Regions from separate parts of the Homo sapiens genome. Here region 1 is linked to region 2. The links come from fine-mapping of genetic effects on gene expression. A gene starts in region 2. The other region holds a variant in brackets. All regions are shown on one strand. Distances are between the middles of the regions.

Region 1 (4,357 bases), 52 kb after region 2:
AAAGTGCTGGGATTACAGTCATGAGCCACCGTGCCTGCCCGGATATGTGAATATTTTATCTAGCAGTGAATGAAGGTGTGGGGTGCCCAGCAAGGAGCTCTAGGGGTCTCAGTTATGAGGACACAGCAGGAAAAGGACAGACGAGAATGGCAGCATGTGCATGGTCAGTGCTGCCCAAAGGCAGGGCAGGCAGGAGGATGGGGTGGGATGGTGGGGGTCCCAGCAGGCTGGGGGGCAGGGCACCTGCCCGCCTAGCACAGTTGGGCGCAGCAAGCTGAGGGGCCAGAAGAAAACTAAAGGGTGTGGTGATTCCAGCAAACCCAAGGTCAGATTTCAGAGCAGAAAGTTGTCACTTGGAGAGCAGCAAGCATCTGTCCTGTTGATGTAGTCTAGGAGATGCTGTCACATCACCTGATACTCTGGAGTCTTTCTGAGATAGGTTGGCATCCCATTTACCCTGTAACACCCAAAACTTCTTATGTCCTGTTCTCTACCTGGGCGTTGTGCGTGGGCTGGGAACGGGAAAACTCGGGCAGAGCAGAGACACAGAGGGGGCGCCTGCTAGAGACTGCGTGAGGAGCCCACTAGGAGAACCGTGGGATGCCGGGCAAGTCTGCACTGCTGCGCTCTGAAGTCAGCCACAGACACATGGGTTTCCAAGCGAAGCTCCCTCCCCATGTGATGGAGGTCACAGTCGCCCTCCCTGTCATGCCTCCTTTCACCCTCCCAGCTGGGTCAGGTCCCCAGTCAGAGGCAGAGGTGAGCACAGTCTTGGGAAGCAACCTGCGGTCCACCCCCACCGCTCAGCCCCGCCTTTACAGCTGCGTGCGCTTCAGCCCTGGGAGGGCTGATTCTCACAGAGCTCGAGCTCCTTGGTGGTCCTGGGACTCAGCTCTCCTGGGTGCCGGTCAGGACCCCCATCGCAGTCCCGTGTGCATTTGGGAACCAAGTCCTTGGGGCTTGAGTGTAAATGGTCCTTCTGTAAGAAAGCTGATTCTGGCACCAACAGAGAGGCTGCCTCAGATGAAGAGTGTTAGCACCCGAAGGGACCCCCAGGCCTGTCCTGACCCTCCCACCCCTGCTGTCGGCCCAACTTGTGTCCCTTTCCTGGAAGAACTGCTTCCGGCGGCCAGTGTGCTATGCTTCCTCCTGGCTCTGCCCTGCACCCCCAGAACAGCCCCTGGGCTTACGGGAGACACTAGTCTCTGGGCTTCTGCAGCCAATCAAGCTGCTGGGCCCTCCCTCCCAAGCACTGGAGGAGGTACTCGTTCTGTGGGCCGGGGCCCCTCCCTCCTGAGCACTGGAGGAGGCACTTGTTCTGTGGGCCACGGCCCCTCCTTCCCCAGCACTGGAGGAGGCACTGGTTGTGTGGGCCCTGGCTCCTCCATGTCTGAGGGAACTGCTCTGCTTCTCCTACAGTCCCTGAGATTCTGCAGCTCAGCGATGCCCTGCGGGACAACATCCTGCCCGAGCTTGGGGTGCGGTTTGAAGACCACGAAGGTGGGTGAGCCCTTGCTGTTTGCTACAAAGTTACCAGGAGCTTGGAGAGGTGTCACAAGGAGAGCTCCCGGGGCTGGGCTGAGGCTCATGCTTCATGATTGCTGATGCAGAATCCCAAAGTGGCAGCCCCATGGGTCCCCCGGCGCCATTCCCACGCTGGCCAGCCTGGCAGGGGCAGGGGAGCACCCCGTAGCTCCTTCCCACTGCTGCGTGTGGTGGTGTCACCTCCCCTGCGCATCATCTCCCCTAGGGGCCTGGCTGCCCGCTGCCCCTGTTGCTACCGCCTTTGAAGCTCTCAGCTGAGGAACCAGCCTGTATCCTGTACACTGTCAACAGATTGCATGCTTGTTCTCCCACTTCGTGGAGGTCTTTTTGTTCCACAGAAAGTTAATTTTTTTGTTTTTTATTTTCAATTTTTATTTATTTGTTTATTGAGACAGAGTTTCGCTCTGTCGCCCAGGCCGGAGTACAGTGGCGCGATCTCGGCTCATTGCAACCTCTGCCTCCCGGGTTCAAGCGATTCTCCTGCCTCAGCCTCCCGAGTAGCTGGGATTACAGACGCCCATCACCACGCTCGGCTAATTTTTGTATCTTTAGTAGAGACGGGGTTTCACTGTGTTGACCAGGCTAGTGTCGAACTCCTGACCTCAAGTAATCTGCCCACCTCGGCCTCCTAAAGTGGCATGAGCCACATGCCCAGCCTTAGTTTCAGTTTTTATGGATACATAATAGTTGTACATATTTATGGGCTATGTGTGATATTTGGATACATGCGTATGAGGTACTATGATCAAATCTAGGTAACTGAGATGTCCATCACCTCAAGCATTTATCATTTCTTTGTGTTACGAACCCTCCAATTCCACTCTTCCACTCTGCCCCTGGTAATTTTAAATCTCAGATGTCATGTCCTATTTTCCTACTCCTGGCTGGCAAGACCTTCCTACCTTCTCGTTACAAAATGTTCTCGCCAGGTGTGGTGGCTCATACCTGTATCCTAGCACTTTGGGAGGCTGAGGTGGGTGGATTACCTGAGCTCAGGAGTTCGAGACCAGCCTAGGCAACATGGTGAAACCCCGTCTCCACTAAAATACAAAACATTAGCTGGGTGTGGGCTCCTTGGGCAGCTGAGACACGAGAATTGCTTGAACCCGATAGGCAAAGGTTGCAGTGA[A/G]CTGAGATCGTGCCACTGCACTCCAGCCTGGATGACAGAGCAAGACTCTGTCTCAAAAAAAAAAAAAAAAAAATCACACACACACAAACCAAAATGTTCTCCTGTGCTTCACTGCTGCTATGGAGGTTTTTGTTTGTTTTTCTCCTGTGGGCCCTCGCTCTGACTGGGCAGCACCGCATGGTCTGGGCAGGGCAGGGCAGGGCAGGGCTGGCCCCGCAGTGGGGACGGCCCACAGAGCCCAGACTCTTCTCACACGCAGTTTATTTTGCAGGACTGCCCACAGTGGTGAAACTGGTAGACAGAAACACCTTATTAAAAGAGAGAGAAGAAAAGAGACGGGTGAGTAAAGTGAAAATGACTTAAGCGTGATATTTGTTGAAAATGTAAAAACCATTGCGATTATTACATAGTTTACTTTTTAAGCATTGATGTTTACACTTTTATTAAAATCCCAGTATTTATAAATGTCAGAAAGAAAAATTAACTAGTATCTTCTAATGAAGGACCTCTTTTAAAAAGATTATTCCCTCAGTTTAAGTGAAAACCAGTCACTTTTGGCAAACTGTGAAGCTGACTTTTTTTTTTTTTTTTTTTTTTGAGACGGAGTCTCACTCTGTTGCTCAGACTGGAGTGCAGTGGCACGATCTTGGCTCACTGCAACCTCCACTTCCCTGGTTCAAGGGATTCTCCTGCCTCAGCCTCCCAAGTAGCTGGGACTACAGGCACGCACCACTGTGCCCAGCTAATTTTTGTATTTTTTTAGTAGAGATGGGGTTTCACCATGTTGGTCAGGCTGGTCTCAATCTCCTGACCTCGTGATCCACCCACCTTGGCCTCCCAAAGTGCTGGGATTACAGGCTTGAGCCACCACGCCTGGCCCGAAGCTGACATGTTAAGATCCCAGTCCCACCGTGCCCTCACCTGAGTGGCGCGTGTCACTGATGCATCTCCACCTCCTATTCCCAGCATACTCCCCACCTGCACCCCACAACGCCCCCAGGATCAGGGATGGCCCAAGTTCCTCGGTGCCCAATAGGACAGAAGAACAGGAACAAAAACGCAATGTCAGAATCTCTGGGCACAGCGCATGGGGTACCCTGGGATGCAGGCAGCAGGATGAGAGGCACCTGGGCCCCCAGTGCACACCATGGGAGGTGGGCCATGGGGGCTGTTGCCACCAGCAGGTGGGTCCCCAAGAGGCTTAAAGCAGGAGACCACCGTGGAGGGCGAGTTTGGATGCCACAGCTCTCAGGAAGGAGGCTCTGGGAGGAACTGAGGAAGGAGAATCGACAGGGTGGTTGATTGATAGATGGGATGTACAAGGTCAGGGAAGGCATCTATGCCTAGCCCTGCACTGGCCCAAGGCACGAGGGGAGAGCTCATGCCAGATCCAAGTGTGGGTGGCTGGAGTTTGCAGTGCTTTGGAGGAATAACGAACTGGAACTCTGGGGAAAGCTCTAGACAGTGGTGAGTGGTCTGCAGGTCCATCCTGGTTGGCAGGTTGGGAAGAGCTGGGCTTGCCCTGTGAGGTTGGCTGGTGTGACTGCCTCATCAGGGCCCCTCCCCATTCCATCACAGTCACTCACCTAGCCTTGGGTCTCGCCTGCCGTGCTGTGCTGTGAGGTGGCCTGGTGCTGGCTGTGCAGACGCCCTGGCTTGCTGCACTCCCTGGCAGAGTGCTCA
Region 2 (4,407 bases):
TGGGAGGCCGAGGCGGGCGGATCATCTGAGGTCGGGAATTCGAGACCAGCCTGGCCAACATGGAGAAACCCGTCTCTACTAAAAATACAAAATTAGCCGGGCATGGTGGCACATGCCTGTAATCCCACCTATTCGGGAGGCTGAGGCAGGAGAATCTCTTGAACCTGGGACACTGAGGTTGCGGTGAGCCAAGATGGCACCATTGCATTCTAGCCTGGGCAACAAGAGTGAAACTCCGTCTCAAAAAATTTTTTTAAATTAATTTATATATGTGTATTTATTTATTCATTTATTTATTTTAGAGACAGGGTCTCACTCTGCACCCAGGCTGGCATGCAGTGGCACAATCATAGCTCACTGCAACCTGAAACTCTGGGGCTCAAGCCATCCTCCCTCTTCAGCCTCCCAGAGAGCTGGGATTACAGGTGTGAGCCACCATGCCCAGCTGAAATTTTCCCTTTTTACAAGGATATCAGTTATACTGGATTAACGTCCCCCCTAATGACCTCATCTTATGACTTTATCATCTGCAAAGACCCTATTTCCAAATAAGGTCACATTCACAGGTCCTGGTGGTTATAGGATTTCCACATCTTTTGGGAGAGACACAATGCAACCCATAACAACCTGTAACCCAATGTGCTGTCCCAAAGAACTACAACACCAGGGGGATGCTGAGGTTCAGAGAGTGTCCTTGCCCTGGTGGTAGGGCTGGGACGCAGCAGGACTGGGGAGGCGGGACCCACTGCTGCTAGACACTGCAGCACTCTTAGACACAGCTCGGCCACCTGAGCAGGTGATCATTTCCCAGTTCCGCTCTGCAGACCCTTTTTTTTTTTCCCAGTAGAGATGAAGTTTCACTATGTTGGCCAGGCTGGTTTTGCACTCCTGACCTCAAATGACCTGGCCGCCTTGGTCTCCCAAAGTGCTGGGATTACAGGCGTGAGCCACAGTGCCCGGCCCCACTTTGCAGATTTAAAAACAAGACATCTGGAAGCTCAGAGAAGTTAAACTCACCCCAGGTCTTACAGCCAAACTCTGGCTTGCCTGACCTGATGTCAGGAGGCTTTCTTAGTGCAAGAAAGGAAGGGCAGGGCAAGCCTTAGCCGAATGTTTATCTCTAAGAGGCTTCTGACTCTCCTGGGCGCCTCCGGTTCCTTCTCCCAGGAAGGCATGTGGCCGAGCTGGGCTTGGGTGACTCATGGTCCTAGAGTGATGAGTGAGAAACAGGCACTGTGAGAGTCATGGTAGGACCTGGCCAGAACTTCGTCCCCTAAGTCCTGGACTTGGTCCCTCCTTTGGGATTAGTTGGGGTCTCACAGAGCCTCCCACATCCTGGGCAAGTTACAGCACATGCTACAGGATCTTTGCAGAAATGTAAACAAACTCTTTCTTCTTTTTTTTTTCCAGCCACCAGTAGAATTTAGAATTTATTTATTTATTATTTTATTTATTTATTTATTTATTTATTTATTTGAGACGGAGTCTCACTCTGTTGCCAGGCTGGAGTGCAATGGCGCAATCTCGGCTCATTGCAACCTCCACCTCCCTGGTTCAAGCGATTCTCCTGCCTCAGCCTCCTGAGTAGCTGGGACTACAGGCAAGCGCCACCATGTCCAGCTAATTTTTGCATTTTTAGCAGAGACAGGGTTTCACCATGTTGGCCAGGATGGTCTCGATCTCTTGCCCTCATAATCCGCCCACCTCGGCCTCCCAAAGTGCTGGGATTACAGGTGTGAGCCACCGTGCCCGGCCTTAGAATTTATTATGAAATTAGACATGAGGTTCCAAAAAGTAACTAGAAGATTTTTTACTTTTTATTTTTTGAGAAAGGGTCTCACTCTGTCGCCTAGGCTGGAATGCAGTGGCACAGTCGTAGCTCACTGCAGCTTCAAACTCCTGGACTCAAATGATCCTCCTGCCTTGTCCTTTCAAGGTGCTGGGATTACAGGCATGAGCCACTAATCCTGGCTAATAATTTTTCTTGACATATTAAAATTCTGTTTCTTAAATAGCATTTCCTCTCATTTTGGATGGGTGCACGAACCTTGGGTGGGATATCCTTGGGAGGTGACATCATGCACACAGAAGGCAGGAGCCCTAAGGGGGTTGGGGATGGCTCCAGAATGGGGTCTGAGAAGGAGATGGAGAAGCCTGTTCACGCAACACTTCATAGTGGCTTGCTTTCCGCAGGGTCATTGGCAGGGCGGTCCCTAGGCCTGGAGCGCTCTTCCCGCCCATCCCCAGGCCCTGCTCCAGGTCGGCCTCCTGGGAACCATCCCGTCTCGCCAGCACACCCTGTCCCGAGGCCGCCTCTGACCTCCAGGCTGGGCCTGGTCCCCACGGCGCTTAGCGCAATCATGACTTAAACACCTATTACAGGACGCTCAGTCTTTAGTGCTTGTCTCCCCGCGGCTGGGCTGACTACTCCCAGCACGGCCACTGAACGCTTGGCCGCGCGATGCTCCGGAGCGCGGGTCGCCATTGGGTTGAACTACAGCTCCCAGCATGCTCCGGGCCGGCGACATCCGGAGCCCCTGGTAGTTGCCTAGCGACCGGGCGTGTCCCGGAAGACGGGCCCGGCGTGGGGCGCGACTTCCGGGGCGGCGGTTGCATCAGATTCTAGGAAGTGTCTGTAGCCGCAGCTGCGGGTCCGGGATTCCCAGCCATGGCAGATTCCTCCGGGCAGCAGGGTGAGCGGCGCGGCCGGGCCAGGCTGAGGGCGGCTGGGGGCCTGACTGGGCGCTGGGTGCTCGGCTCGAAGGGCAGCGAGTCCTTATGTCTGAGGGGCCCGGGTGCATGGGTTCTGAGGGGCAGCTGTGTCCGTGGTCTGAGGGGCGGCAGTGCCCGAGGTCTGAGGGGTGTCAGTGCGCGGGGTCTGAGGGACGGCACGTCCTTGGGTCCGAGGGGCGGGGGTGCTCGGGGTCTGAGGGGTGTCAGTGCCCGGGGTCTGAGGGACGGCGGGTCCTGAGGTTCGAGGGGTGGCACGTCCTAGGATCCGAAGGACAACGGGTGCCCGGCTCCGAGGGACGGCCACTGGGACCCCTGGGACTCCTGCGTGAGGGTCTGCCAGACCCGTGGCTGGAGCACAGACCCCGCGGGGACCCGAGCCCGAGCGGGGCGCTGCCCAGACCACCCAGCCTCAGTTTCCTCACTTGGTTCCTGCCGAGGTCCCCTTGCATCCTCACCCCGGGAGGTGGCCCTACATCAAACAGCCTTTCCCCAGCCGGTGCCTGGGCGGGCCCTCGCTCCCTCTTGCCCCAGCTGGCCTTTAGGGGGGAGACAAAGGCCCAAGGGTTGTTTTGGTTTTCTGCCCAGACCTGGCAGCTTCCGGGAGGTGGGCGGAGGGCACCTGAGGTTGGTATTTAGGGAAATGGGGCAGAGGACGCCAGGGGTACGCGTACACACAGTAAAAGGGCTTGGGGCTTTACGAAGGCTTTCATCTCCAGTTCCGCAGGCAGTCCACTGCAAGCTGATTGTCAGAGCATTACTGCCCCATTTTATTGCCAACCCGGGAGGTTCCCCAGGGACACAGCTGTGTCAGCTCCCCCAGTCACTCATGTCACCAGCGGGTAGACCTTGAGAGACCAGTGGGTTCTTCTCTCACTGTCCCTCCAGCAAGATTTTAGGTGCTGGAAAGGCAAGAGACTGAATCAGAAAGCCCAGATTCCTAACAGTCTGGAGCAGCCTTTCCAAAGGAAACATTCTCAGTATCTAGTTTTTAATTCTTTTGGCTGGCAAAAATTAGATGCAAGTTCTTGTAAGACACCTCCAGCCCCCACCCTCAGTTTAGATCGTACCAAGATTTCCTTAGCATCTGGTGGTGCCCTTTGCCCCTGAGGGTTTATTGGGTTATAGATAGGTAGTTATGACAACCCGAGTAATCTGGCGGCATGGGGACACCCAGATGACAGGGCTACACTCTTGTGCCAAGTGGCAGGAGGTGGTCACCTTCCAGGCACGCCGCCTACCACCCTACCTGTGTGCCTGGATTCCAGCACCATCTCCACCCGTCCCAGAGCCAAGCGGCCCTCAGAAGTCACCCAGATTCCTGTAAAACAGCATCATAGTTAACAGCCCCAACTCTGGAACCACCCTGGAAGGGCCAGGGTTCCAACTCTGCCTCCCGCCCCACAGCAAACCATGCGTAATGGCTCCTACCTTGGAGCATGGAGTGTAAATGAATTAATAGATGGGAAGGACGTAGAACAGTGCCTGGCACTCAATTAAGTGCTGTGTCTGTGCTGAAAGTTAGGGCCTGTTTGTTTTCAAACTAAAAATGTGTTTTTGTTCATTTGTGAACGTAAATGACGTATTAGTAGTGTTTTGTATCTTGTTTTTAAAAATAGCTTTAGAATTTTAGGTTTTCAGAGCCTTGTAAGAATTGCCTTCTTTTTGGAGCTTGCC

Which allele goes with the higher level. Positions count from the first base shown, and alleles are read on the strand shown. Sizes are in standard deviations (SD) of each study's normalised expression.
For the expression in tibial nerve of the gene that starts at base 2,613 in region 2, allele G in region 1 goes with a lower level than allele A (small effect, 0.23 SD a copy in GTEx).

Evidence for each region.
Region 1: its variant is fine-mapped to the expression of CARS1 in tibial nerve (GTEx, PIP 0.94).

What each region holds. Positions count from the first base shown.
Region 1 is chr11:3,004,022-3,008,378 of GRCh38, reverse strand. It overlaps CARS1 (cysteinyl-tRNA synthetase 1), which reads left to right. Exons shown (of 23, transcript NM_001014437.3): 19 at 1,420-1,500; 20 at 2,946-3,013. Among named protein-coding and RNA genes, the nearest start is that of NAP1L4, 14 kb to the right of the region's middle. The variant A/G (reference allele first, on the strand shown) is at 2,675.
Region 2 is chr11:3,055,629-3,060,035 of GRCh38, reverse strand. It overlaps CARS1 (cysteinyl-tRNA synthetase 1), which reads left to right and starts at 2,613. Exons shown (of 23, transcript NM_001014437.3): 1 at 2,613-2,693. The coding sequence starts at 2,669. It overlaps LOC124902615 (a long non-coding RNA gene), which reads right to left and starts at 1,412. Exons shown (of 2, transcript XR_007062555.1): 1 at 1,018-1,412. RefSeq lists an enhancer at 2,427-2,959.